Homo sapiens: one gene and its partners. The protein of the gene in region 4 purifies or fractionates together with the protein of the main gene of each other region. This does not show direct contact. Each region holds a gene or a part of one and is shown on either strand. Other genes may lie near its edges.

What was found.
Region 1: the proteins of MINK1 (region 4) and CNOT2 purify together in Homo sapiens (affinity purification with mass spectrometry; 2 studies listed by BioGRID and IntAct, with this or other methods). This does not show direct contact.
Region 2: the proteins of MINK1 (region 4) and STRN3 purify together in Homo sapiens (affinity purification with mass spectrometry; 3 studies listed by BioGRID and IntAct, with this or other methods). This does not show direct contact.
Region 3: the proteins of MINK1 (region 4) and CTTNBP2NL purify together in Homo sapiens (affinity purification with mass spectrometry; 2 studies listed by BioGRID and IntAct, with this or other methods). This does not show direct contact.
Region 5: the proteins of MINK1 (region 4) and CNOT9 purify together in Homo sapiens (affinity purification with mass spectrometry; 3 studies listed by BioGRID and IntAct, with this or other methods). This does not show direct contact.
Region 6: the proteins of MINK1 (region 4) and TNKS1BP1 purify together in Homo sapiens (affinity purification with mass spectrometry; 2 studies listed by BioGRID and IntAct, with this or other methods). This does not show direct contact.
Region 7: the proteins of MINK1 (region 4) and MOB4 purify together in Homo sapiens (affinity purification with mass spectrometry; 3 studies listed by BioGRID and IntAct, with this or other methods). This does not show direct contact.

What each region holds. Positions count from the first base shown.
Region 1 is NC_000012.12:70,337,058-70,341,315, reverse strand, and holds part of CNOT2 (CCR4-NOT transcription complex subunit 2), read right to left. Parts: intron 3,928-4,258; coding exon 3,803-3,927; intron 3,561-3,802; coding exon of another isoform or gene 3,531-3,560; exon of another isoform or gene 2,897-3,530; intron 2,874-2,896; coding exon 2,753-2,873; intron 2,651-2,752; coding exon 2,494-2,650; intron 1-2,493. UniProt on the Homo sapiens protein: Component of the CCR4-NOT complex which is one of the major cellular mRNA deadenylases and is linked to various cellular processes including bulk mRNA degradation, miRNA-mediated repression, translational repression during translational initiation and general transcription regulation.
Region 2 is NC_000014.9:30,914,616-30,918,873, reverse strand, and holds part of STRN3 (striatin-3), read left to right. Parts: intron 1-4,258. UniProt on the Homo sapiens protein: Calmodulin-binding scaffolding protein which is the center of the striatin-interacting phosphatase and kinase (STRIPAK) complexes.
Region 3 is NC_000001.11:112,394,883-112,399,013, reverse strand, and holds the start of CTTNBP2NL (CTTNBP2 N-terminal-like protein), read right to left. Parts: upstream 2,801-4,131; 5' UTR 2,742-2,800; exon of another isoform or gene 2,429-2,741; intron 1-2,428. UniProt on the Homo sapiens protein: Regulates lamellipodial actin dynamics in a CTTN-dependent manner. Associates with core striatin-interacting phosphatase and kinase (STRIPAK) complex to form CTTNBP2NL-STRIPAK complexes.
Region 4 is NC_000017.11:4,894,945-4,898,561, reverse strand, and holds the end of MINK1 (misshapen-like kinase 1), read right to left. Parts: intron 3,488-3,617; coding exon 3,320-3,487; intron 3,227-3,319; coding exon of another isoform or gene 3,213-3,226; coding exon 3,069-3,212; exon of another isoform or gene 3,068-3,068; intron 2,865-3,067; coding exon 2,730-2,864; intron 2,560-2,729; coding exon 2,459-2,559; intron 2,370-2,458; coding exon 2,220-2,369; intron 2,134-2,219; coding exon 1,974-2,133; intron 1,889-1,973; coding exon 1,749-1,888; intron 1,359-1,748; coding exon 1,275-1,358; 3' UTR 501-1,274; downstream 1-500. UniProt on the Homo sapiens protein: Serine/threonine kinase which acts as a negative regulator of Ras-related Rap2-mediated signal transduction to control neuronal structure and AMPA receptor trafficking.
Region 5 is NC_000002.12:218,574,863-218,579,120, reverse strand, and holds part of CNOT9 (CCR4-NOT transcription complex subunit 9), read right to left. Parts: intron 1-4,258. UniProt on the Homo sapiens protein: Component of the CCR4-NOT complex which is one of the major cellular mRNA deadenylases and is linked to various cellular processes including bulk mRNA degradation, miRNA-mediated repression, translational repression during translational initiation and general transcription regulation.
Region 6 is NC_000011.10:57,314,601-57,318,858, forward strand, and holds part of TNKS1BP1 (182 kDa tankyrase-1-binding protein), read right to left. Parts: intron 3,288-4,258; coding exon 3,218-3,287; intron 1-3,217.
Region 7 is NC_000002.12:197,522,118-197,526,375, reverse strand, and holds part of MOB4 (MOB-like protein phocein), read right to left. Parts: intron 2,753-4,258; coding exon 2,690-2,752; intron 1-2,689. Other genes in the region: HSPE1-MOB4 protein, read right to left, coding at 2,690-2,752.

The DNA of each region.
Region 1 (4,258 bases), on a different chromosome or scaffold from region 4:
GCCTGAGATATAACAAGGTGGCCAGTGAAGCTGGAATACAGTGAACAAAGGGAAAAGCTGTTGAGGTGGGGTTAGGGGACAAACAATAATCATGTAAGACCTTGCAGGCCTGTGAAGATTTGGGGTTTCTGGTCAAGCGCGGTGGCTCACACCTATAATTCCAATACTCTGGAAGGCCAAGGTGGGCAGACCACTTGAAAAGTGAGGAGTTAAGAGACCAGCCTGGCCAACATGGTGAAATCCCGTCTCTACTAAAAATACAAAAATTAGCTGGGCATGGTGGCACATGCCTGCAATCCCAGCTACTCAGGAGAATCGCTTGGACCTGGGAGGTGGAGGTTGTAATGACCCGAGATTGCATCACTGCACTCCAGCCTGGGCGACAAGAGCAATACTCTGTCTCAAAAAAAAAAAAAAAAAAAAAAAGATTTGGGGTTTTTAATCATAATGAAACCACAAACATTTACTGGGTGTTGAGCAGAGGAGTAATGTATTAAAAAAGGATTGTCTTGGCTGTTATATGAAGAGATTGTACGGGAAGGGGTATAAGGACAATCAGGGACCCCCAGTGACTGGCTAATGGAGTATTCAGGCAAGAGAGAATGATTCAAACAAGGGTGGTAGCAGTTAAAAGTAGTGAGCTTTGGTTAGATTCTGTATATATTTTGGGAAAAGCCTGATTATGGGGTATAAAAGAAAGAGGAGTTAAGAATAATGCCAAGTTTCTGGAAGTACAGAGTTACCACTAACTGAGATTGGAAAGGCTGTAGACAGAATAAGTTGGGGGGTGATCATTCAAGAAATATTTAATTGGCAATTGAATGTAGAAATCTCAAACTCAGAAGTGTGGAATGGAAACATATGTTTGGGATTCCTCAATATATATGGTATTTAAAACAATAAGACTAGAAAAAGATCATCAAGGATGTAAATGCAGAGAAGAGGAATGACACTGAGGTCAAGAAGAAAAGGAGGAGGTACCAGCAAAGGAAACTGAAAAAGACCAACCAGTGAAGATGAGGTAAAAATGGTGCTCTCAAATTCAAGTACAAGAATGTGTATCAAGGAGCAAGAGTTCCTCCAAGTGACCACTGAATTTAATAACATGAAGGTCATTTGGTGACCTTGATAAAAGCAGCTTTAGTGAAGTGGCAGGGACAAAATCCTGACTGAAATGGGCTTACCAGAGAATGGGAGAAGACCAAGTCGGAGAAATGGAGATGACTCTTTGAAAAGTTTCGCTTCAAAGGGAAATAAAGAAATGGGAAAGTAACTTACGGAGGAGGTTGGATCAAAGGAAGATTTTCTTCTAAGATGAGAGAAGTAACAATGTATTTCTATGTTGATGAAAATGACCCAACAAAGTGTGAAAATGTGTTGTAAGTAGAACGCATGGGTCAATTATGGTAATAGGGTGGAAAACAAGAATAACATAGGTGTAGGTGGCTGTAGGTAGTCAGATTTGTTGGCTAGACTGTGCTAAATGTGCTCTTCTAATTGCTTCCATCTTTCTTAGTACAGTAAAAGTGAAAAGCAAGATCATCATTTGATAGTAAGAATAAGGAGAAAAGGTATTAGGGGCATGCAGAAGTGTACGATAGTTGCATAAGAGAGCAAAAGAGTAAATGGACTAAGCATGCAAGGTATAATTATCACTGGTAGAATTAAGAGCCTACTTTTGAGGCTCCTGGGCATGAAAATAAAGGAAGACCAGGCAGTGATATCATGTGTTTTTCTCTAGCAGAGCTCAGTAGCACAGGTCAGGAATGAAATAGGCAGAAACAATCAGTACTGTAGCTTTGGCCATGCAAGTATAACAACATGAGAAAATGGCAAGTAGTCATGGGATATGTAAATGAACAATTATGACTGACCACAGAATTTCATGGGTAAGAAGGGAGTTGATCACAGGGGAAAAGAGACGGGGATCTGGAAGAACAGTTAAAATACCGAAGAATCAATAGATTGAAGGTCCCAATGGAGTGAAATGATTACAGGAATCACAGTACTAGAAGAAGAGAAATAGAAAATAGAAAGTGGAAGTCGGAAAGCATGCGAGCTCAGATTTTAAAATTGAGAGACTGCAGTTACGAACAATGACTAGGTCAAAGGGATAACTAAAGGAGTGGCTGAAGTATACTACAGGACAAAAATTCCTGGAGGAAAGAAATTCAAGGAGCTGAGATTTCAGGATTCTGGAAGGTGTGTGTGTGTGTGTGTGTGTATATATATATATATACACACACACATATATACATGCACATGCACACACACACACACACACACACACACACACACACATAAAATGCCAAATTATAAAAGGAATACTGCAGAGTGACAGTGATCTAAGAGCTAACATGAATGGGAATGACCCAGAGAATCAGCAGGTTAACAATGAGTAGCAGTAGGTGAGATAATTTGATGACATGATATTAAAAACTGGAAGTCTGAAGAGGTATTATATACAGACATGGAAAAACAGAAAAAACTTACTCAGGAGAGTTCAGATTGAGGCCTAATGTTGTTAAGTCACTTCCTAATGCAAGATGTACCATTCCTGGGTCTGTCTCTGCTGCCCTGATAAATGTTAACAGGCCAATCATTCCAAATTGGTCCGTCACCATCCCTTGAGGAATGTTAGTAACCCGACCTGGGTAGGAAAAACACAGTTGCTTTTATTTTCAAGAAAAAGTTAAAAAATAGAAAAAAAAGCATTCTATAATATCTTTGACATAGATTTCTAGAGTCCCACCATCAGGTAACACCTGGATCCCTTTTTTCTGCTGGTTATTATTTTGTGTTGTTGAACTTTTATCTCCAGGGAATTTGGGTCCATCTGTACTTGAAGTTGTCTTGCCAGATGTATTCAAATTCTAGCATGAAAAAAATTAAATGTGACATTAAAATTTGTTAAGTATACAAATTCAAGTTCACATATTAATACCTTGCTATTTATTCTTTATTACATTTAAATTGGTAGTTAAATTATTACCTGTTTTTCAAGTTCTATAGAAAATTGTTTCCATCATTGTTCCATGGTATACAAATAAATCCTATATCATCCACATTTGAGTATTTAAAGAAAAAGAAATCAAGGGAAAATATCTTATTTATCTCAGATCTTCAGTCACAGAAAAAAAAAAATCTATCTCTTTCTCAGGTCTTTATGCTTTGGGATACACTTGAAGTTACACTCCTCAATGCTTTCATGTAAAAGAGAAACTAAATATAGTATATTACCTAAAATCACCAAAGCTACCTTGAAGATAAGTTAGACATACAAGCTTTAAAACTTTGTACTTATTTTAATTCTTACCGATCTTCTTTATCAATTATTTTAATAATATATAAACTCCCATCACACACAGAGAAAAGCTATTTTCAGTGAAATGTGGAAGAAATAAACATATTTGTTAAGTCAGAAAGAAGAAGCTGAGTTGGTTGAATCAACACAGGTATAAAAATGTGTATAAATTCTTCAAGGAGAAAACTTACTCAAGAAAAACACAGCTCCTTAGAAGGCTATATTATCAAACTTCATGGGATCCAGCTGACAGGGACTACAATAAAAGTCTAAATTAACTCTGAGAAGTTCAACAGAAATTTGCAAACCTATATGAAATAGGAAAAAAATAGGCTATCTTCTAAGTTATAAAGCTTTTCCACATTCTTCAGAAGTTAGGTTATTACAGATATCAAGATAAAACAGTTTTGTAATAGTATTTAGTAAGTAATTGTTAATATAAGAGAAATCTGAAGGGAAAAACTACATCACTCACATACACACTTCTCAGTTACTTACAGATTTACTGTCATCATTACTTGATGTTGGATCTTTATAGCTGGAGCCTGGTAATGCTGGAAAATCTTCATTGTGTATTGAGAAGTCCTGGGATTGTTCATTTGCTGGTTTTGTTACCATTCCAACTATGTAATGAAAATAATCCGGAGAATTGCAATTGATATTTATGATATTTTGCTACAGATTATAAAGTTAACTTTCCTCATGATAATACACCAAAAGGTTTCTTTTTTTTAATGCTATGAAAGCGTACTTCAAAAAATTAGTATCCAGGGTAACAATGAAGAACTAAATTTTCATTTACTGATTAATAACTCAACATACAAAATAATACAAGGGAAATCAACAGTAATCCATGTCATGCGTAGGTGCTTAAAAATTTAATTTGATATTGGATTAATTATTAACAATTTTGGTTTAAAAGCTTGTTTTATTTAAATATTTGACTAGATATTA
Region 2 (4,258 bases), on a different chromosome or scaffold from region 4:
TGATGATCATTTTATATGATCTTTAGAGAAGGTGTTGGGCAAGCTCTTGATGTAACTAATTTAGGGATTTTGACATTTCTGGTTTCTATTTCTTTATATTTTGTTTTTGTTTTTAATGTGAGGAGTTGTTGTTTCCATCATAGGTGAATTCAGAGTCTTTTCTTAAATCTAATTTTAGCTACAGATCCAGTAATGGGAAAATAGTAATTTATAAAAACAAACTTAAAATAATACATATGGAAAAAACTACTCATTTTGTCTTATTGCTTAAATTTAGGAACTAATAGTAATTACCACTTACTAGAAGACAACTATGGTGCCAGGCATTGTGCTTGGAACCTTTTTTTTTTTCTTTTTTTTTCCTTGAGACAGAGTCTCACTCTGTCTCCCAGGCTGGAGTGCAGTGGCATGATCTCGGCTCACTGCAACCTCCGCCTCCTGGGGTCAAGCGAGTCTCCTGCCTCAGCCTCCCAAGTAGCTGGGACTATAGGCGCACACCACCATTCCCCGGCCAATTTTTTGTATTTTTAGTAGAGACAGAATATTACCATGTTGGCCAGGCTGGTCTCGAACTCCTGACCTCAAGTGATCTGCCTACCTTGGCTCCCAAGGCGCTGGGATTACAGGTGTGAGCCACAGTGCCCAATCTGTTACATTAAATATATATTACTTCAAAAAATATATGTAACTGTTACCTAAATTAATCATTTGAGAATAAGGCAGCATCATTATTCTTTAACTTGGTAGCAAGTATACGCTACCTAGTAATGAATTTTATAAAATTTGCCTAAACCAGAAATGTGTAGGAAATGAAAGTACTACTTAAACATTTTTTCCAAAATTGATTTTAGCCGAAGATATATGGGTATACTTGAATCATGTATAACTCTAAGTCTAGATATTTATAAGTATTAAATCTGAATTTTTAACCAAAGATTATTGTGACATATGAGATACAGTAATTTGGCATATGTATTAAGTTTAATTGATGTTATTGCCTTTGCTCTGTAAAGGGGATTTGTTTGATGTCCCAGTCAAAAAATTTTAAATACATCTTGTTCCCTTTTAAGATTTCCCTAGTGGCACAGTTTCCTTACAGTTAAATAATTTTGCATTTTTTCCCTCTCATAATTTACCATTTACTTCACTCACCTTAAAAAAAATCACTAAAGTAACAAAATCATTCAAAACAAAATGAATGAAAAATAAAATAGTGTCTGTTAATTTTTTCAGATCTCATTTCCACTATTGAGATATATTCCTGTTTTACTTTAGAAGTATTTTCTAAAATACACATAGCAACTCCTTTTTTTTTTTTTAATTTTATGCATTTAGTGGTGATTTTGCTTCGTTTTTGGTCTGTTTTGCCAAATATGCATAGTACAACTTGCTAAAATTTTTGTAATTAATGTACATTTAAAGTGCAGGTTTTGCAATTTAAGGCAAAGCCACGTTAGCAATGTGGACCCTTTTAAATGTTTCAAACCAATGACTTAACGGAAAAAGCCAGTCAAGGCACACTCTACACAAAAACCAACTTAGAACTCTCTATGTGTGTTTGTTTATGTGTTATGTGTGTGTTTTAAAGAAAGAATATAGGTCAGTGATCTGTTTCTTGATGCTGGTAGGAGGGCGAGGGGAGAGATTTGATAAGTGTGAACTTCATTACAGTTTTTGAAGTATCGATCTTCCTGGAATTTGTTATTTAAAGAGGTGTGAGTTTGACTTCAAGCTAAGAAGGCAGCTTTGGAGTATACAGTCTCCTTATTTTCAGTGGCAGTCCCCAACTTCCTTCTTTACTTTTGAAGTCCATGTCCTACCTCATTTTATAAAGAACAAATGTCTGTTTTCTAGGAGTGGAACTTCAACATTACAATCTTCTAGACTATTGCTGCTAAAGACTTGAGACCTACCATGTTGCCACTGGTATAAATGGAATCTGTTACCTGGACTAAGTTCTTGGGAAAAAGAGTTCAATATGCGAGCTACAGGTTTCCTTCATCATAAGTGTCCATCAAAAGGAAGATTAGTTACAAAAGTCTGAAAAAGACCTTGTATTTTATAGACCCGTTATACTAGTATTGTTATCTTACTTGATGAAATCTCTTAGGCCTCCTAAATTTCCATCATTAAATTAAAAACTAGGGCAGGCATAGTAGCTCATGCCTGTAATTCCAGCACTTTGGGAGCCCAAGGCAGGAGGATCACTTGAGCCCAGGAATTCAAGACCAGCCTGGGCAACATAGCAAACTCTGTCTCTATTAGAAAAAAAAAGAAGATATTAAAACTACTTTTTTTAGGCCGGGCGCGGTGGCTCACACCTGTAATCCCAGCACTTTGGGAGGCCGAGACTGGTGGATCACGAGGTCAGGAGATCGAGACCATCCTGGCTAACACGGTGAAACCCTGTCTCTACTAAAAATACAAAAAAATTAGCTGGGCGTGGTGGCGGGCGCCTGTAGTCCCAGCTATTCAGGAGGTTGAGGCAGGAGAATGGCGTGAACCTGGGAGGCAGAGCTTGCAGTGAGCCGAGATCGCGCCACTGCACTCCAGCCAGGGCGACAGAGCAAGACTTCAAAAAAAAAAAAAACCAAAAAAACTACTTGTTTAAATAATTACATTTTTCTTTGAATTACTAATGACATTTTTATATTATGGGTAATTATATTACCATTAATAAAATGAATAGGATAGAAATTAATTCCCTCTGCAGGGAAATAAGGGCAAACAGATGAGTAGCTGCTGTGATTACCATATGCCACAGTGATGGGTAATATGGAAAGCAGAGGTAGTAGTGTAAAAGAATTTTTGCACATATATGTGTAAATAGTGATTAAGCAGAATAGCTTGCAATAGGTACATAAATATGTCATAAAATATATGTGTGTATATAGAGAAAAAGGACAGAAATGTGGTCATATGATTAATTAGAAATGAGTATAATACTAATTTTTTGTTAAGTACAATTAAGCCAAAACTCGAGTAAAACTAATGTCCAGACACTTCCCTTCACATGCTCCTAAATTGGTCTGGCTGATCAGAGATAGTCTTGCAAAATCATTTGTTACGTTAAAGTTATTTTATTGGGCTTTTGAGATTTGTGTCAGTGAATGTTTGTATAATTGTGAGTGGGAGGAACTGTGGCATTTTGTTCTGACTTCTCTTAGAAACAAATTCCCTGAGCTTAAAGTAAAAATATTTCTTTGTCTAGAGAAAAATGCTTTGAGTAAATATTATATAATGACTTTTATATAATTATCCTTAAACATAAGTTTAAATTATTGATTTTATAGTTTTTAGCTGCTTCTGGTATTGCCAATAACTGCATACTAATAATTGGTAGGAAAAGATCAAAAGATCAATGCTACAGATTATTCAGATTCAATAAGTGTCATCATTGAAAGATTAAATACTACTTAATATCTCTATATATTTTCTGTCAGGTGCTTTCAGATTCATTTTAGATCAAGTAACTGAATCAGAGCTGCATTTTAGAGCCCTATTTGAGTCAGATTATATAGCTTATTTTGATAGGATAAAATAATAAAATAACAAGATATTCTAAGTACAGTTGAATTTTATTTTGCCATAGTATATATATGAATTGTGTCTTCTCAGAATTATTTCCAGTAGTTTAGTGATGACTGTCAAGTTTCATTACACCTGTTGTGTTTCCTGTAGCATATTTATATCATTTTTCATGGGAATTTTTTTAAAATTGATAATCAGCTTGATTTTTTGTATAATGTGTCCCTTTTAAATTTGCTCATGAATTTTAAGTGTGTTTTGATATATTGAGTTTTATATTATGATTTGAGTATTTCTCCCTTGTTATCTTAATGTTAAAATTTTGCTTTCAAAGCATATTTGAAATGATATTGAAGGTTGTTGCTTAAACTATGACTGTTACAACAAAATATTTAGATAATAGTCATTCAATTATGGCAGAGTTTAATTGGTCAGTAGTATGTATAGAAAGGAAAACGCATTTTAAATAATTGGAACTGTTAATATTAACATGAAAAGCTGTAATAATGCACATGATATAGTTGAGAAAACTAAGTGAAGCTCAACCTGAGTTTAGTTTGAAATTGAAATGGCAAATCTGATCAGAAATTAAAGCTCTGTGGTCAAGATTACTTGCTTCATTTTAGAGTGTCATGGTAACTAGAATGGGACATTAAAATAAAAGTCATAGTCAAAGCTTTAAAGCTGGAAGACAGGCTGGGCGCGGTGGCTCACGCCTGTAATCCCAGCA
Region 3 (4,131 bases), on a different chromosome or scaffold from region 4:
TCAGCAATCAGTCCCTAGTGATCTCTCCTAAATTCACTTCATTCCTATCAGGTCAGATATTTAGAACAATAAAATCCTAAAATGATTAGCACTCATTACGTTCTTAAGTCTGGTTCAAATTTCATGACAGTAAAATAGTATTTTCTAACTAGCAGATTACATATATATTTTTTTAACTTTTTTTTTTTTTTTTTTTGTTAAGAGACAGGGTCTCTTTCTGCTGCCCAGGCTGGAGAGTGCAGTGGCATGATCATAGCTCACTGTAACCTCAAACACCTGGGCTCAAGCAAGCCTCCTGCCTCAGCCTCCCAAGTAGCAAGGATTACAGGGATGAGCCACCACACCCTGCCTCACAGATATTTCTTTATAAGAAATTCAAAATTTTAGTCACTTAAGACACTGGAATTTCATAAGACAGAAGATGGGGAAAATCAAGTTAAATGAAGACAACAAGTAGGCCGTTTATACTAACAAATTGTGCCAAATCTAATCAGTACATTGCCTTTCAGTCTACCCTAAGGTGACAGCCTCAAACTAAGTTAAACAAACACTCATGAAGTCATACTATATACTAGGAACTGTGAAAGATATAAAGATGAAAAACAAAAAATACTACTATCTGCCCTCAAAGAATTTATAATTCAAGGAGAGAGATCAGACATCTATCCTCTGCATACTATGCTTTTCTTCACCTAGCATGACCAAACAGGTGTTGAAAAGGTTAAAGGAAAGATTTTCAAGACCCAAAAGTGTAACAAACAGATCTTGCTTACTGTGCTAAATAATAAAAGAATATTATTTGCTTTTTCCTATTAAACCTCGGCAATCACAACTTTGGTTTGCTTAGTCTCTTACCTTAGTTTATTTTCTGTTCTCTGTTGATATAATACAACTTATCTTTTTGGGATTTTCTGTTCTGCTTTTAGTTTTTTCTGCTGTTATTGCTGGGAGCTCACGTCTTACCCTTCTATTGCAGCACACATTGCGTTTGCTAGAGACACCCTCCAGTTTCTTCTTTGTACTTTCTTACTGGAGATTTGGAAACAATCACTGAGAAGACCTGTGAGCACCGAGTGGCTCTGAAAACTTCAAACCTAACTATTCAAAAGTAATTATCTTTAGGAAGTCTACCTTCAGAAAGTCTAATCAAGAAGGTAAAAGACAACAGTCATTACAATCACCCTCCGTGATTCCAACTCCTTGCATTTTATTGCCATCAGCTTTGGCTATAGCTGACAGAGGGGAGGTAGACTTGAGATTGGAAGCAAAAGAAACTATGCTAAAAACATGGTAAATTTTAATATATAAAAGCGCTAGCAATAGATGATTACTGGGGATTCAACGACATTAACATGAGGTCAAAATCAACACTTTGCACCTGCTGAAATGAAGACCACTTGACAAAACCTTTAGGAGCACACTAGAAGAGGCACTTTTTGGTAAACATGAATAGCTAGAATACCTTGCCTTTATTTACTCTTATCTCTGAGATTTAAAAATTGTTCTTACTTTTCATCCTCTAAATTTTGATAGATGATCGTAAAACCAATCAAAATATACATGAATGTTTCCTGGGGGCGGGGAGGACACTATAAAAAAGGGGTTAGAGAGTTACCAAAGGACATAGGACTAGATTAATCATAAACCTAGATGACTGACCCTGAATTTTCTTCAAACACTTCCTGTCTTTTGTTTCAACCTGCAGTATACCTTCAAGGTTAACTGCAGTCTCCCTGAGCAATGGACCAGCCCACCCTAGACTGGGATATACTCATTCCTAATCCACTGCTACTTATTTACTTATGTATACTGTTTCATTTGAAAACATGGTGTTATTCATTGACTGTCAAGCAACATATACTGCATTCCTGCCCACACAAAGCCAGCTCTGCAGATATCCAACACACCCACCTCACTGTGAAATATAAGATGGCTTTTCATCAAGTTCTCAGGGAGGAAATAGGGTGGAAAAGGAAAAATGAAACGCAATTCAAACCTAAGAAACCCTTAGAGGCTGGGTGCTCCCAGAAGGAACAGAAAGTAGAAGGAAGGTACAAAGGGTGAAGGAGAGGAGGTCCTAGTTCTCCCTCTTTCACAGTCCAAAACAGTCCCAAAACAGGAGAGCTCTCGACTCCTCACAAGAGGCCAGAGGATGCGAGGGGCTGCGGGAGGAAGACTGAGCATCAGAGAATGGGGGATGGGAAGAACTTAAGTGGGAGAAGCCGCTTCCTCCGTAAAGCTGGCTGTCTAGGTCGGTCTTTGATTTTTGCTTCGCCCCATCCCTCCTTTTTGGGAAACACCAATTTTATCTTACGGAGGAAAGCAGCTCCAGTCCCACCCTGGCGAGCAGGGACAGGTGTAGGGAGGGATGTTTGGCCTTCCGGGGGTACGAAATGGGGTTGGGGGCGGCAGCCTAGAGAATCGGTACCTGTGAGTCCTCTCCGCCAAGGCTGAGGTGCGGGGTGGGAGGTGCCTTTGAATGAGGGGTGTCAGAGGGAAGCCCCTTCTGAGGAGCTGGGAATCGACGAGGGACAAAAAGTAGCTGTGAGGACCCTCGGAGGATGAGGAGCCGCCTCCTCGGGGAATACCGGGAGGTGGAGGAGACGGCCCCGCCCCCTCAGGGGATGGGCCCAGAGGCCGTTGAGACGGCGGCGGGAGGCTACCGGTGCCCCTATCCTTGCTTTGCTCTTGAGAACCCGGCCTCCCAGCCATCACCAAGCCCCAGGGATAGTTGCTCCTACCTTTCCACGACGCTCCGGGCTCCGCTCCCCTCCGCCTCCACTCCCCATCCACAGCGGCTGAGGCTCCGCCCCCTCAGCCGCCCGGCGGGGGCATTGGCATTCACCAGCGCCAATCGCCTCCTTGCTTCTCCAGCCTCGGCCCCAATCCGCGCCGGCTGGAGGCGGGGCTTCTCCAAAGTCATTCAGGCTCCTCCCGGGGCCCCAAGATCCCTTTTGTTTGGGAAGAGCAAGGCCGGGATTGAGCTCGCGTCACTTCCGGGAGGAAGCGCCCTCCTGGGTCCTGGGCTTCAGGGTGGGCTCGCGCCCCTCCCGGCTCGGGGTCTGCAACTTTCCACCTCTGCGTGAAAAGTCTGGGCAGGACCGTGACTAGTGCTTCGTGCTTTTACCTGACTGTACGCGGAGTTTAGGAATGGAGGGCTCTGGTGGCCTAATCGATTGGGATTTTATCCAGAATGTTAATAAATGAAGTGGGCTTTGGTGTCTGCATTAGAATGAATTCGTTGTTGAAAAACCTGGCTTCCTTGCTCCCTTTTTTTTTTTCTTTTTTCTGGAAGCGCCTGTGGGCGTGGTGCTGGAAGCAAGGGTGCAAAGATGAAACACCTGGAGATCACCCTTCTCTCAACCACATTTTGTACAGAAGAGGATACTAACTTTGGGGGACATAAACCCAGCCGACCTGCCTTCCAGGCGGAAGTCAAATAATTGCAAATTTGTGTGGCAGGTTTTTCCACCCTATGCTTGCCAGCTGAGGCGACTTTTTTCTTTCCTTGGCCTCATTATATTGTGGGGAATGGTGTTTGCAGTGAAGTTGAAACAATGGAGAGTACAGAGGATGCAAGGAATGTCTGCCTTGTGAACACAGGAATGCAGATCTTGGTGGCAGCAAGTCTTAGGCAGGACCAAATAACTCAGAGAGGGGAGTGGATGTATAACTAGTTGTATCCCTACCTAAGGTCAAAGTTTCTGAATTCCTTTTCCACAGAATGGCTGTCAGCTCACAGATTGATGCAGCTGGTTACATTTACAATAACCACATTATTTAAAATACAATATAATAAATATTTGAGACGAATATTCATAATGCATAAATAATGTAGTACACTTAATACATTATCCCTAAACTTAGCAATTATAATTCGCAAGACAGCATTAGGGACCTAGTGCTTGCCTAGGCAGACAGTCCCCAAGGCAGATGCAGCCTGCCTCATGCAGTTTACAGTCTGACTGAGGGATGTGATCAGTTTGTGCGATTATAGTCTGAAAGAAGTAAACAAGTATTTATCATGTTATCACTGTGCCATGTACTTTCATTTAATGGTATTTGATGTCATTTTCAGTGCTGTATGAGAAATCTATCCTACAGTGTAGGATAGACATCATTGTGTCCAAT
Region 4 (3,617 bases):
CAGGGGTCAGCAGGAGGAAAGGGTTCACATAGGCTCTCAGGTGCCAGTCTTCCAGAAAGCAAGGACTGCCCTTCATTCAGCCTTGCTGACCTCCCAGCCTTTCTAAGGCTCAGCCCCACGGGACTCTGGTGGCTGCCAGCTTGTGAGCTATCTATCTATATTCATTTCATAGCCAAACAGGAGACCCCTTTGCAGGACTTGCACACAGGGAGGCTGTAGCCAGGAAACCCTCTTCTTCCCTGGTCTGGCTCTGCTGGAGCGGGTGGGAACCAAACACCTTCAGTGCTGGTGGCCCTCAGGCCCACAGGTTTAAGGCTGAGGCTGCCCTGACCCTTCCACAGTCATTTCTTCTAGGTTTTCTTGGCCCAGCACTGCCCATCCCACCCCATGAGGCTCACTCATTGCAGATCCCAGCCCACCCTGCCCCTTTCTTCCCCACCCTGGAGGCTCTCTCTGCCTAGTCTACAGTACTGACAGAAAGCAAGGACATGCGGCCTGCATGGTGGGAGCTGGTTGAATTGTCTTTATTAACAAACAGGATATCCAAGGCCACTACATTGAGGAGGGGTGGGGGGGGAGGGAGAAGGGTTACTTGCTGCTCACACTATATACAGATGCAAGCAAGGGGCGTGGAGAGTGAGGGCTCCCTGCTCCCTCCCTCCACCGGGGAAGGGCATGGGCTAGAAGAGGAGAGGGGGGTCGGGAATGGGGGGAATGTTTTGGCTGGCGGGGTCCCCCCTCCATTCCCTGGAGTTTGGGGGAAGGGGAATCATTAAAGTGCTTTCAGAAAATGAAGAAATGGTCCCTGCCCCTGGAGTGGCTGGTGACCCCCCAAAAATCTAGGGCCCAGTGACCCCCCCCAGGGTCTGGTACATTCAAGGGGGGAGCCGGCTCCCCTGACGTGCAAATAAAGGGGTCCAGGGCCCTGCCCAGTCAGCAGCAGTGGGGTAAGGGGTTCAAGCCCCAAGCACTCTCCTCTCAAATGGAGAAAAGGGGGGAGGGGCTAGGCCCACTCAATTCCTGGGAAGGGGAAGCTGTGTCCCTCCCCAGAAGCTGGGGACAGGCACAGTTTTGGGAAGAGGACATGTTGGGGAAGAGGATGGTCACGTGATCACGAAAGCATCAGGGGTCAGAGGTCACGTTCCCAGCAGGCTCCAGTGAAATCAAACCAGTAAAAGCAAAAGCCCAGGGAGGGGAAAGAGGGGCGGCCCGGGAAGCCTGGCTGCAGGGGGAGAGCTGGGTCCAGTGTGGGACAGCCCCAGCCCAGGGCCCCGTCACCAGTTCATGATGCAGTTACGGTTCAGAGTCATGAAGTAAACTTGGCTGCTGCCCCCAGAGCGGACTGAGGCAAAAAACACCTGGGTGGGGCAGGAGAAGAAGTCACCAAGGGCTGAGGTTGGGGGGGTGTCTCAACTGGGAGAGGGAAAGAAGGGAAGAAGGGGTGGCAGAAGAGTTGAGGGAGACACAGAGACTGCAGGAGGAGACTCACAGTGCCCCTCACCCGGAGGAAAGGCAGGCTGGGATGTTAGGGGAGAGGGTGCACCACTCGCCCCCTGGGGGCCAGCTGGGAAGTCCTCGGAATCTGAAGGGAGCGCAGGGCAGTGGTAGTGGCTGACTGCCCTCTGAGCTCCCAGAGGGGCCCGCTTTCAGGAAGCCACCACCACCATCCTCTCCCCAGAACTCTGCCCAGGGGCCTAGGGTCATGGCAGCCGGGACAGCAGGGCTTTCAGAGGGAAGGAGCCTCCCACCTTGTCATTCCGCTCACACAGGAACTTGAGCCTCTGAGCTCGTTTGTGCATGAAGACCCCGTCGAGGTGGCCCGTCTCCACAGAGCGGATCTCAATGGCTTTCTCACCCCAGCCCATTATCTGGTTGGAGCAGATGTAGGCTGTGGGGAACAGGTGAGGGGCTGAGCAGGCTGCACCCCGGGGCCACCTCGGGGCATGTGGCTGGGAGGGCGGCAGCTCACTCACCCACAGAAGTAGGCATCTCCCCCCACTGCAGCACCACATCCTTAATGATGCGCCCGTACGTGTTGACGTAGACACCCTCGTCCTCGTAGCACAGCAGCATCTCCATGCCGTCGGTGTTGGGGAGGAAGATGATGGCATGGGGCGTGATCTGGCTCTGGATCTGGGGAGAAGGAGGGGGACTAGAGTCTCCGTGTCTGGTGCCCAGACTGGGCCATCCCACTCCCCCAGCAGCCCCGCCAAGCTCACGTGCACAGGGATGTAGATGTCATAGCTGTTCCCCGAGTCGACATCCACAGCATGGAAGCCAGCACTGGAGCCATAGATGACCTTGAGCCGCTGCCCCTCCTCTACTGTCAGGTCGACCAGCAGAGGGCGGTGGGGGAGGTCGGCAAAGGACTGCAGAGAACCGGAGGAGAGGAGGGCTCAGGGGCACGGGGAGAGGCGCTGGGACTCCAGATGGTGTTAGGGACCGAGGCTGGGATTACCTTGAAGGCCATGAATTTGTGGTAGGGTTTGGGGGCCCAGGCATACACCTCCACGGAGCTCTTGAGGGCGATGACCAGGAACTTAATCCGCTCGTATTTCACTGGGGGCGGGAGAGAAGAGGGATGCTGAGACTTCCCTTCTTGCGCCACGGGCGCCTCCCCGTGGTCTGTCACTACACTGCCCCACCCAGGCCCCAAGTCCCTGGCTCCCAGATCCATTTCTCTCTTCATGAACAAGTATGCGCTGGCCACTCTGTTGGGACATCCTCACCAACACGGTAGTGCCCGCAGCCCTCCATGTCCCCCACGGTGGTCCAGCCCTGCTTCTTCTCCACTTCTGGGTCATTGTGCAGAATCTTGTTCCGGAGCCAGGACAGGTAATACACCCGCAGTTTGTTCCTTTTCCCTGAGGGACGGACAGACATACACACCCGCCCCCATTCTCATCTGAGGCCCGAATGCCACCGCCCTGGCCTCCTCTGTCAGCATACCACAAGGGGTGAGAAAGTGTGGCCCCACCTTCCAGTGCCTGCCCTCCTCCCAGGCAGAAGATGGTGACAGCGCCAAGGAGCTGAGCCCCTCCTCCCTCCCCCACTCACCACACCTGTACCTGAGATGGTGATGAGCAGGTTGAGCCCCTCCAGCACATCCATCTGCTGGAAGCGTCGCCGCCCAATGAGTCCATACACCTTGCCCTGCCCACTTCGGTCCAGCAACATCAGCCCGTTCTCCGTGCCCACCAGCAGGTTGACCCCTGCAACAGGAGCCCTTGGGCAGGTCAGAGGCTCAGCCAGGCCCTCACCTAACCAGGAGCACAAGAGCCACGCCAGAGCCTCCTCAGCTGTCCCTGCCCTGGCTTACCCCAAAGGGCTGCACAGAGGATCTCGGAGTTGAATCGCTTCTTGTACTTCCGGATCTCAGGGGTCTCACTGTGGGCCCGGGTGTTGGTGGGATTCACGTTGACCACAGAACCCTTCCTCACGTCGTACTGCAGCTGGTCGAGCCGAGTGCCCTCTCCACCCACTAGGGCTGCCAGAAGGAGGAGGAGGTGGGAGGAGGGGCTGCAGCTTCTCACCCCATCTCTTTTTACCTCCATCCCCTATATCAGGTCTTGGCACCTCATAATACGCAGAAAGGAGGAGAAAGACAGGAGGAGAGG
Region 5 (4,258 bases), on a different chromosome or scaffold from region 4:
TTGAGAGGAAAAAAAATTATGCCTTCCCAATACTGGTCCCTCCCCAGTGATTCTGACATCCCCCCTCAACTGAGCAGAAAACCTGTAATTTGGAAAAGCTCTCCCTCTTAATGATTCTTCAGTATATTCTCTAACTACATCCCTTTGAGAACCATTCATTACTTACTCATGTAGGAAATACATACTTAATAGGGCATGCTTTCATTATTATGCTAAAGAATCACAATATTCCCCCCAAATTTGAATATTTTATAATTCTCTATAGTCATCAAATATGTTTGTGACCTTGGTTAAGTTCCTTAATTATTCTTATCTGGAAAACAAGATGGGAGACTAGAAAAATGATAATTGCTACCCCTAAGCTCTAAACTGCTAACAAATTCCTGGTGATTTCCATCTCTATGCCCAATATGTTCTCAGGTAATTGCCCCCAACCATGAGAAATAAAAGAAGGAGCGGGAGGCGGGGGGGAAGGCTATCTACACTTGCAGATGAGATCACTAATGTTCAGAGGAATTAACTCACTCAATTTAACCAGGTATGAAGGTATGAAGTTGCATATTCCCGTACTTTTTTGAACTATATTACAGTTTCTCACAGTACTTATAAGTTCCCAAAAGATCTTAGCTTGACAGAATGATGACCTACCCATTGTACAGATGTAAAGACAAAGAACACAAAGAACTGCCTTTGTTGAAGATCAGAAGCATAAAATAGACTTTGAAGTGGATTCAAATTTACTCTACCCAATCTGAATAATGGCCTTTTAAAAATGGAAGCTTCATTGTAAGTTTTTAGCTTTATTTTTACTATTTCACTAGCCTGACAGAAAGAACCACAAGTTGTTCTGCTAAATAGACTGAAATACAATGCAGCTTAAGCTTTAAGTGCCTTACAGTAATCTGCTAAAAGCTGTTTTGTAACTCCCTTCAGGGATGGTCCTCAAGGAATCAATCATAGGCTCTTAAAGCAACAATATGATAGAAGGAATATGGTAGCTTTTTTCCTCCTTTCCCAACAGCAAAAGCAGTGTTGTTCAGGCACTTGCCCTTTCTAGGCAGCCACAAACAGGCCCTCAACTTAAAAACTATTTTTGGAAATGTAATTCCTACCTGAAGATAGGGTATGTGTTTATTTAGAATATTACATCACCTTAGACGCTCAGCAGAAACACAGGATAAAATTTTAGTGTTAGGTTTCCTGCCCAGTCTCTTGGATGACCCCACAATCCAGTAACCAAAGGGGGCCTCACAGATACTGGTCTGGCAATATAGTACCTTTCCTGATTAATCAGTACCCATTCCAGCTGACCTTCCCCAAAGTCTTGTCATACAGATACCACCATCAGTAAACTCCATCATCCCTACTGGAGCCAGTGTGTGACTTGCAGTTGGCACCTTGTACCCCATCTTGCCCTGGTAACCACTGGTTTGCATACCATGCCTCCTGAACACCAGGCCCCATCCCTACATATTCTCTTTCTGGAGCTGGCCTGATGCCCACAGAGAAGATGGCCCTGCTGGCAGTGGTGTAGGCACTCTGAAAGGCCAATGCCTGGTGCGTACACGGGTTCCTAAAGCCATGGACACCTGCTGCTAGCAATACTCCAATTTGTGAGATTATTTGTGGGGGCTGCAGCCTCCATGTGATTTTGATTCTAAGAGAGCTAGAACCATGTCAGGTGGGTGGTAATGTGGCCCCCATGGGCACTAGCTTGGTGTTATGGGTTCTGCTGTCATTCTAGCCAAAAGGAGGGCAGTTTGGTGCCAGGAAATATCTAGGGTGGGGATCCTCCTTTTCATCATCCCTGTTGCATTTCACCCCCAATTTAATAACAGCAGTAAGTTACACCAACTGAATACCCACCTGTCATGGGATGAATACAATTTTTTAAAAATAAAAATGAGAGCTTAAAACATACAGTGCTTACTCTGCCAGGCACTGTCCTAAATACTTATATTTACCAGCACTCTCATTTTATAGATAAGGAAAATCTGAGGCACAGAGAAGTTATGTAAAATTTAAATGGCAAGCTAGGATTTGTACCCAGGTGTTCTAGCAACAGAGCCCACACTTTTAACCGCTTTGCTAATGCTGCTTCTCATCTGCCTGAAAGACAAAATCTGATCTAAAGATGACTTTTTTTTTTTTTTTGAGATGGAGCCTCACTCTGTCTCCCAGGCTGGAGTGCAGTGGTGTGATCTCAGCTTACTGCAACCTCCGCCTCCCAGGTTCAAGCGGTTCTTCTGCCTCAGCCTCCCCGGTAGCTGGGACTACAGGCATATGCCACATGCCCAGCTAATTTTTGTATTTTTAGCAGAGATGGGACCTTCCCACGTTGGCCAGGCTGATCTCAAACTCCTGACCTGAAGTGATCTGCCTGCCTTAGCTTCCCAAAGTGCTGGAATTGCAGGTATAAGCGACTGTGCTCAGCCTAAAAATGACTTCCTAATAAATTATATTCTTTGACCTAGACAATATAGTTAATACATAAAAATCTCAGACAAAAAGTAAAATGTTATTGGTGGTAGTTCAACAAAATCTGAAAGAACACTCAGTACTATGAACAGTAGCATTGATGTTAGGAGAAATTCTCTACTTATTGAGATTACAAAGCACTTAATAGGTATTGTTTTCAGAGAGAAGTCAGTACAATAGTTTCACATAGTTCCCTGTGTCACATTATGGATCAGATGGGGCATAATTTACTTAGTGAGAACCACCAACACACACATGGACATATAACAAGCAATTTTGTAACACACATATAGGAATTTCATTGTTTTGGAGAATAAAAAGGAAATATTCTTATATTTTGAGTTATATATTAATTTATATAACCAGATGATTGATAAAATATTTTGGACATTCCTAAATAAAACACCAAAACTCAAAATGTATCTTACTCTCCTTCCATATCCCAAGAGTTATTTAGGCCCATCTTTCACAAAAAGAATCTGTAATTGACATCTTTTTAAAAGGAGGCGGGCAGTAGAAGAAGGGGTACGGCAGGTGAGGGAAGAGTTAGTTCTGTTGTACCACCTTTTTTTAAAAACATGGTTTCATTTAATGATCACAACATGGTGGTTATTAACCTCATTTAACAATCGATGAAACCATGGGCAGACAACAGGCAGATTTACTCCTCATGCCACTCTGTAACGATCACCTCTAATGATTCCTAGTTCAGATGCTACAACTCTTTGAATTTTTAATTTACTAATACATTTCTAAGGCTGTGGCTGATATGGAACTCAATCTAGTAGCACACATTGCTCACTGACAGGCAAGCAAATTAATCTATGACTTCTCTACTGGAAATTACCTTATTTGAAGCATTAATAATAATTGCAGGATACCAACCAAGAGAGCAGAGGTTGACATTTTTTGAGGCCCAGACCCTTTAAGAATCAAATGAAGTCCGGCACGGTGGCTCACGCCTGTAATCCCAGCACTTTGGGAGGCCGAGGTGGGAGGATCACAAGGTCAGGAGTGTGAGACCATCCTGGCTAACATGGTGAAATCCCATCTCTACTAAAACTACAAAAAAATTAGCCAGGTGTGGTGGCAGGCACCTGTAGTCCCAGCTACTTGGGAGGCTGAGGCAGAATGGCGTGAACCCGGGAAGCGGAGCTTGCAGTGAGCGGAGATTGCACCACTGTACTCCAGCCTGAGCCACTGTACTCCAGCCTGAGCTACAGAGCAAGACTCATCTCAAAAAAAAAAAAAAAAAGAAAAAAGAAAAGAAAAAAGAAAATTGTGGATCTTTTACTCAGAAAAATACACAACTGCAAAAACACGAAAACCTACACATAATTTTAAGGAGTTCACAGAGTTCCTGCAATGTATCCATGTACCCAGGATTAAGAATCTGTTTATCAAATTGAAGAACAGGAAAGACCTCAATTTGCAAGGAACTACATGTGTATATAATTGGAACACACACTGGCGTGGGAGCCTGAAGTGACTTCAAAATCCAGTTTTGCTCTTTCTAGAATTGTGTGACCTAGGATAAGTCATTTAACTTTCCAAACCTCAATTTTCTCATTGTTAAAGTGAAGGAACTATATTAAATAATTGTCAGTCTCAGGCAACTCTAAAATCTTAGAAATTATTTAGTTCTTAGTTGTGAGAGTCTAATCTAAGAGGCTCTTTTTTTAAAAAAAAAACTTTGACGTATAATTTGCATACAATAAAAGTGAACTCATTTTAAGTGTACGCTTCAATAGATTTTTGAGAAATTTATACACCTAAGTAA
Region 6 (4,258 bases), on a different chromosome or scaffold from region 4:
AGTTAGGTGAGGGTGAAGGGAAATGTGTGCACTGGCCCCTCGGCATAGGACTCATGGGATGATGGCGGCAGAGAGTGGGGAGGACGTGGAGAGAAGAGGGGGACAAACAAGGCACCAAGCACCTGGCACTCCACCTGTCCCCAGACAATGAAGTGACTCTGGCTCCATCTGACCTTTGCCCTCTGCAGAGGTCACACTTCCCTGGCCGCCCTCTCCCATGTCGTTAATTCTCCCACATCATCACCTACTAGGCCTGGGCAAAATAAAGGGTCCTGCTTGCTTCTCAAGGTCCCTTCTGTTCCCTCCATGCTCACTCCCCTCTGCAACGTTCTAATGTCAAAGCTCGTGCCCTTAAACTACAGCACCCACAATTCTTTCTTGTTATTGACCCTTACGCACCCATCATTCCTTGAAAACCATAACCGCTGCATCACTGCAACCCTCTCCATCATTGTTGTGATAGCTTACAGTCATCTCCATAGCCAGATGCGACCCTTCCAGCCTCTGGTTCGTTGACCTCCTCTTCCTCAGTGACTGTGCGACCCATCCTCTCAAGGTCACACCCTAGACCTCATCCTTACCAGTGGCTGCAACCTCTGCATCATCTCAATCCCAAGTATCCCACTTGCCCACCCCCACCGCCTATCTGACCGGCTCACTCTATTTCCCCAACGCCCTTATTTTCAGCCCCTCTCATAGCACAGCCCCTTAACCCTAATTCTTTCTCATTGTCCCCCACTCCCCTCATACCCTCACCTCTCTTCTTATCACCATTAACGTCACTTTTTACTCAACACTCAACTCCCTCATCTGCTTCATCATACTGTTTAACCTGTTTAAATACAGCTCTCCAATACAGCTGGGCCAATCCTAGCCCAGCACCTGAGTAGCTGCATGTGGCTGGATAAAAACACACAATCGTGACAGCTGGTCTCACTCCAGATTCACTGCTGACCTCAAGCCGGCCCTAGAGCTGCCCAGAATCCCACGGCACTCCCCCTGCCATTCACTCCATGACTCTCCCAGGCAATGTTTTAGCATCTTCTCCCGTCAGACCTCCACACCTCCCCCAATCCTCTCTCAGCTGATGGCCTTGCTTCCTGTTCCCTGAGAACACAGAGGCCACCAGCAGAGAACCCCCGACAACCCCCCCACCGCCACACACACACACACCACCTACTTCCTGCATGGGAGCCCAAGCACTCTGCCTCCCCTTCTGCTATCAGGCACTGTCCTCGCTTGGGGCTGAGGTCAATCCCTCCTCTCTCTCCTGCATCGATTTTTTTTTCCCTCTCTACTGGATCATTTCCATCAGCACACAAACTGCTCTAATTTCTTCTGTCTTGAAAAGCCAAAAAAGCAAACCAAAAAACCACTCTTGACCCCACATCACTCACTAGCTACCATCCATTTTCTTGAAAGCCCTGTCTATATTCACTATTAATATCCACAGTTCTTCTTGTCCCCTTCTCTCTTGAAACCACTCCAAACAGGCTTTCTCCTTTACCTTGCCACCTAACTACTCTCGTCAAGGTCACGGATGACCTCCCTGGAGCTGAATCCAATTCTCTGTGCTCATCTTACTTGACCTGTCAGTGGCATCTGACAGCTGATGGCGCCCTCCCCCAGTCCTGGAGGCTGTCTCCACTTGGTGGACTCTCTCACTGTCCTCCCAGTCTCCTTGGCTGTGCCTCTGGGCCCTCCCCTCCTGCACCATCCCCACTCTCAGTAATCTCAGCCAGTCTTCACAAGCATTCCTACTCTGACAATTCCCAAGTGTTCCTTTCAAATTTGCTCACTTCCCTTGAAGGCCAGACTCGACTACCCAACCATCCGCTTGACGTTTCCACATGGATGTCTGAAAACCATCTCAAATTCAACAAATCCACAAAGCAAACTCCTCCCATCTCCCCCGATCCTGCTTCACCCTTAGAAGTCCCCGTCTCGGCAACCATAAACTCATCCTTCCGGTTGCTCAGGCCAAAAGCCGTGGGGTCACCCTTGATTCTGTGCTCTCTATCTATCTGAAAGTCCTTTCCACCATGCCTTCAAATTCTATCCAGAACCAACCACTTCTCCCCATCTCCACCGTAGGCTACCTCCAGGGTCCAAGCCGTCATCATCTCTCACTTGGACTATTCCAACAGCCCCCTGACTGGTCCATGCTGCTGATCTTACCTCCCTGCAACTGATTCTTAATCCAGTGGGCCAGGTGACTCTTCACAACTAAGACAGCAGCATCCCATGCCTCTCCTGCAAACCCTTCAAATGGCCTGTTGCTCTCACTGAAGCCAAAGTCTTTCTAGAGGCCTTCGAGACTTGACACAATCCAACCCCCCAACCCGTTGGTCCTCACTACCACCTAACTCCTCTCTCACTGCCAGGCAGACATCCTGGCCTCCTTGCCAGGAAAGCACCAATGCCTTTGTACTTGCTGTGCCCTCTACCAAGAATGCTGCTCTCCAGACATGCACACAGCTCAGCCTCTGCCCTTCACAGTGACACCTTCCCTGACCACACTCGTCCCTGCACTCTCTACTCTACCTTCACAGCTATCTCCAACATCCAGCTCCTAACAGGCGCTCAGTCACTGCTTGCTGGATGGACAAATGAATCAAGTCAGATCTCCAGCTAGCAAGGGCTGTATGAGCAAAAAGGGCCATCCTGTACCTTGTTTACTCAAGAAAGCAGGCTGACCATCTTCAAGAACGGGAGTATGATGGGAAAATCTCAGCAAAAGGACTCACCCCTCTTCTGAACTCAGAAAAGGCAGCCCAGCCAGGGAAAGCATGGGAGGCAGACACAGTAGCTGCTGCCTCAGCCTAAGTTACTTACCCTTTGTGAGTACAGGTGCTCTCATCTCTCACATGGGACTAACCAGGTCTACTAGCCAGAGTTATCACAAGGATTGAGTTGGTTAACGTTCCCAGGACAGGCCCAGCACATAGTAGGGACTTAATCAATGGCAGTTGTTGTGGATACTATCATTACTGTTTATGATGAATGGCCTCATGGCCTTAACCACACCTAGCCACTTTGGTGATCAAGAGCACTGGCCCAGGAGTCGAAAAATCCCAGGGCCAGCCCTCCAGTGAGTCACTCTCCCCATGGGCCTCAGTTTCCCCATCTGAACTACAAGGAGTAGAAAAGATGATCTCATATGACCCTTCCAGCTCTAAAATACGTGATTCTGATTCATAACTGGAGGATAACTCACATCAGCAGGTAGCTCCGAGCTGGCTGCCTTAGCCAGGTCCCCGTTGAAGGCCAGGTCGGAAGGAAGGCTCCTGTGAGGGACGAGGACAGGAAATGGAAGCACGGAATGTTAGAGTCTGTCACAGAATGGAAAATGTGGGAGAGTCTCCCAGTGCAACTTTAACAGCACCCAAAGGTTAAACCCTCCTAGCCATTTACTCTTGAGCCCTGCCTGCAACTATTAGGGACACAGAATCTGTCCATTTTCCATTCGGCAAGTGCCCCAGAAAACAGTGCTTATTCCCTACCTGAGCATGAAGGGTTAAATTCCCCAGCTACTTTAGGAAAAGCATCCTGGATGCCCAGACCTCTCAACAGCTCCTAAAAAGATAACTCCTCTTTCCTTTAACCCATAAGGAGTTAAAGTTCTCCTCTAGCCAGGAAGAGTGCAGCTGGTCCTGCTGCCCTGCCAATACTTCTTGAAGAATTGCAGTGGGGGAGGGGAAGAGGAAAGAGTGATTTTCCAGGGTTGAAGTTGTTCTTAAGCCCTACTTGGAGTGAGGGAGAGAAGGAAGATGGCGGGTGGAACCCAGCCTGGGCAAGAGTGTGACCTCACAGCACCCTGGTCTGGGACAGGCAAAGGACTAGCTCTGGGGCCAAGGCTCCAGACACTTTCAGGTGAGAGAAGGGCAAGGCCAGAGGGCAGGGCAGGGCAGGGACCCTCAGCTTCCCGCTTAGCCCAGACCACACCAGCTCTTGCCTTCATAGCAGTAGGAAGAGAAAGGGAGCCTCTGAGCCCAGCAGAGCTGTTAAAGGCCCAAGGAGCCAGCCATACCTCAAGCTGGCTCTCCCAGCACTAAGGACAGCCTCTGTGCAGCTGATGGCTCCTGAGATGCCTCAGCCTCTTCCTCCAAAGTCCCGTGCCCAGCACCCCAAGAAGCACCTCCTGGCCAGCCTTGCTTTACACTAGTGGCAACTCTGGAGAAGCGTATCATATGCAAATATCTCCAACCAGCCAAAATCTCTGTGCAGACACTAGCTGGCCTGGCATCAAGATGTGTTC
Region 7 (4,258 bases), on a different chromosome or scaffold from region 4:
CACTGCACTCCAGCCTGGTGACAGAGCGAGACTGTCTCAAAAAAATAAAAAAATAAAAAAAGTAAGAAAAAGAAACACATGATCATCTCAATAGGTGCAGAAAAAGCATTTGACAAAATTTAACACCATTTTATGATCTAAAAAGCACTGAATGACCTACGAATAAAGGAAACAACTTCAATATAATAAAGACCATATATGAAAAATCCATAGTGAACATCATACTCAACAGTGAAAAACTAAAAGCTCTCCTCTAAGATCAGGAAGAAGACAAAGATGCCCTTTTTCACCACTTTTATTCAAAGTAGTACTGGAAGGTCTAGCCAGAGCAATTAGGCAAGAAAAAGAAAGAAAACAGATCTAGATTGGAGAAGTAAAATTATATGACATGGGTCTCGTATGTAGAAAACCCTAATGATTTCACATCCAAAAAACCTGTGAGAATAAATGAACAAATTCAACAAACAGGACACTTCCCCCTATTTTTAAAGAGATAACCATCTGTACATTTTTCTTCAAAATTTAACCAATTTCTAGGCATAGAGCTAGATCTAGGTTTATATTCCTTTATCTTCCACAAGGCCTAACTCATTGCTAGCTATATCGTGAGAAGCCAATAAATATTTGCTGATTGAACAGCACTTTTTCTTTTTTTTTTTTTTTTTTGAGATAGGGTCTCTGTCACCAGCCTGGAGTGCAGTGGTGCAATCACAGCTCACCATAAACCCTTTCCTCCCACCTCAGCCTCCTAAGTAGCTAGGACTACAGGTGCACGCCACCTAGCCCAACCTTTTTATTTTTTACAGAGACAGGGTCTCACTATATTGTCCAGGCTGGTTTCAAACTCCCAACCTCAAAGTGATCCTCCCTCCTCGGCCTCCCAAAGTACTAAGATTACAGGTGTGAGCCCCCACACCCAGATGGGTGGTTTTTAATGCTCAAATAATTCAACTATATGTCTCTTTTATTTTCTAAGATCTTCAAATAACATAACAAATCCGAATAGCTGTCTACTTTTTTTTTTTTTTGAGATGGAGTCTTGCTCTGTCCCCCAAGCTGGAGTGCAGTGGCACGATCTCGGCTCACTGCAGGCTCACTGCCTCCCAGGTTCACATCATTCTCCTGCCTCAGCCCCCGAGTAGCTGGGACTACAGGCACCCACCACCACGCCCGGCTAATTTTTTTATATTTTTAGTAAGAGATGGGGTTTCACCATGTTAGCCAGGATGGTCTCGATCTCCTGACCTGGTGATCCGCTCGCCTTGGCCTCCCAATGTGCTGGGATTACAGGCGTGAGCCACCGCACCCGGCCAGCTATCTACTTTTATTATCTGGCTATCAAAATGAAGCCAAACAGCCTCGATTTATGGTATATTTTCCCTTTAAAAATGTTATCATCAGCCAGGGCAACATGGTGAAACCCCATCTCTACAAAAAATCAGCCAGATGTGGCAGTGTGCGCCTATAGTCCCAGCTACTTGGGAGGCTGAGGTAGAACAATCACCTGAGCCCAGGAAGTTGAGGCTACATTTTGCCATGCTTGAGCCACTGCACTCCAGCCTGGGCAACAGGGTGAGACCCCGTCTAAAAAAAAAAAAGACAGGTGCAGTGACTCATACTTGCAATCCCAGCACTTTGGGAGGCCATGGTGGGTGGACTGCTTGAGCCCAGGAGTTCAAGGTGGGCAGCATCGCAAAACCCTGTCTCTACTAAAAATTCAAAACAAAAAAAATTTAACCAATGCCTAATCCAATATACTAGTACGCTCCAATTTATATTATCTTTTTATTAGCCCCTTAATGAAATTGTATTTTTGTTTTTGTTTTTGTTTTTTTTTTTTTTTTTGAGACAGAGTCTTGCTTTTGGCCAGGCTGGAGTGCAGTGGCATGATCTTGGCTCACTGCAACCTCCGCCTCTTGGGTTTAAACGATTCTCCTGCCTTAGCCCTCCCGAGTAGCTGGGACTACAGGCACATGCCACCATGTCTGGCTAATTTTTTATGTTTTTAGTAGAGACAGGGTTTCACCATGTTGGCCAGGATGGTCTTGATATCCTGACCTAGTGATCCACCTGCCTCGGCTTCCCAAAATGCTGGGATTACAGCTGTGAGCCACCACACCTGGGCTATTTTTATTTTTTTAAGATACAAGATCTCACTCTGTCACCCAGGTTGAAGTACAGTGGCACAATCATAGCTCATTAGACCCTTGAAGTAGGATCAAGTGATCTCCCCACCTCAGACTCCCTAGCTACTGGGACTACAGGTGTGTGCCACCATGCCTGGCTAATTTATCTTTTCGTAGAAACAGGGTCTTGTTATGTCGCTCAGGCTGGTCTTGAACTCCTGGCCTCAAGTGATTGGCCTCCCAAAGTGCTGGCAGCCACAGTGCCCAGCTTAATATGCCATCTTAAAACAAAATGAGGGTTGACTAAACTTTTAAATAGGCATTCCATTAATTCAGTGGAATCTTCTCTATGCGAAAAGATATAAGAATACTTAACTATGTCAGAGGTAAAATGCTTAGGTTATTGGAGTTGTAAAAGGAACTATTTTGTTTTGTTTTGTGAAAGAGCACGCTTTATTGGGAAGCAGACTGCTGCACAGTGACCAACAGACAAAGGCCACCCAATGGGCACTTACACATCGTACTCCAAAAGACACAGGGTGAAAAGAAACTATTTTTATTACCTGTTGAACAGCTAGTGTACTGTCCATTTCATCAAAGGATTCATCAGGCCAATTATAGAAATCCTATAAAAATAAATTCACGGTTAAAGCACATACAAAATACTATTATGATTAACTTCAATTCTTAATAAAGACCCAAAGCTCACACTAGAGGGGAAGAAAAAACTTTTGCAATGTAATTATCAGTGAAATAAGGAAATAAATTTTATTCAACTTTTCTTTTTTACAGACAGGGTCTCACTCTGCAGCCCATGCTTGTGTGCAGTGGCACAATCATAGCTCACTACAGCCTCAAACTCCTGGGTGTAAGCAATCATCCCACCTCAGCCTCTCACCTTAGCCACCCTATTCTTAGGATTATAGTCCTGACCCACTGCGCCTGGCTGTTTAATGTTTTTTAAATGAATATTAAGATTTTATTTAATTGAACTATAAATTACGTTTTTTCCAATCACAGATTCCTCAAATACAGCTCCCATAAACCTTTAATGTATTACTTAATTGGGGAGACAAGTCTATCACTTTTTTATGATGGTTAAATATCTCTCAAAAAGTTACAATGAAAAAAAAACTCCAGACACCAAAAAGTAAATCAGATTTTTACCAAAAGAGAATATCTAGCATTAGTAGCTAATTTACTGCTCCATAATTATTATTATTAATATTATTATTATTATTTTGAGACCACTCTGTCGCCAGGCTGGAGTGCAGTGGTGCGATCTCAGCTCACTGCAACCTCCACCTCCTGGGTTCAAGTGATTCTCCTGCCTCAGCCTCCCGAGTAGCTGGGACTACAGGCACGCACCACCACACCCAGCTAATTTTTGTATTTTTTGTAGAGACAGGGTTTCACCATGTTGGCCAGGATGGTCTCAATCTCTTGATCTCGTGATCCGCCTACTTCAGACTCCCAAAGTGCTGGGATTACAGGCGTGAGCCACCATGATCGACCCATAAGTATTATTTTAAAAAGAAATTATAAATTATTATTCTCATTCCAAATAGAGTTTTGAATTTCTAAATCAAAATATGGGCACCATTAAAAAGTAATCATCAGACTGGGCATGGTGGCTTACACCAGTAACCCTACCACTTTGGGAGGCCGAGGCGGAAGGATCACTTGAGGTCAGGAGTTCGAGACCAGCCTGGCCAACATGATGAAACCCCGTCTCTACTAAAAATACAAAAAATAGCCGGGCATGGTGGCGTGCGCCTGTAATCCCAGCTACTCAGGAGGCTGAGGCAGGAGAATTGCTTGAACCCAGGAGGCGGAAGCTGTGGTGACTCAAGATCACGCCACTGCACTCCAGCCTGGGTGACAGAGCAAGACTCCATCTCAAAAAAAAAAAAAAAAAAAAAAAAAGGTAATCACCCATGGGTACAAAAAAAATAGAAAGAATGAATAAGACCTAGTATTTGCTAGCACAATAGGGTGACTATAGTAAAAACCAATTTAATTGTACATTTAAAAAAAACTAAAAGAATCTAATTTTTTGCAACATAAAGGACAAATGTGTTGCAGGAAGTCAGGGACCCCAAACTGAGGGACCGGCTGAAACCACGGCAGAA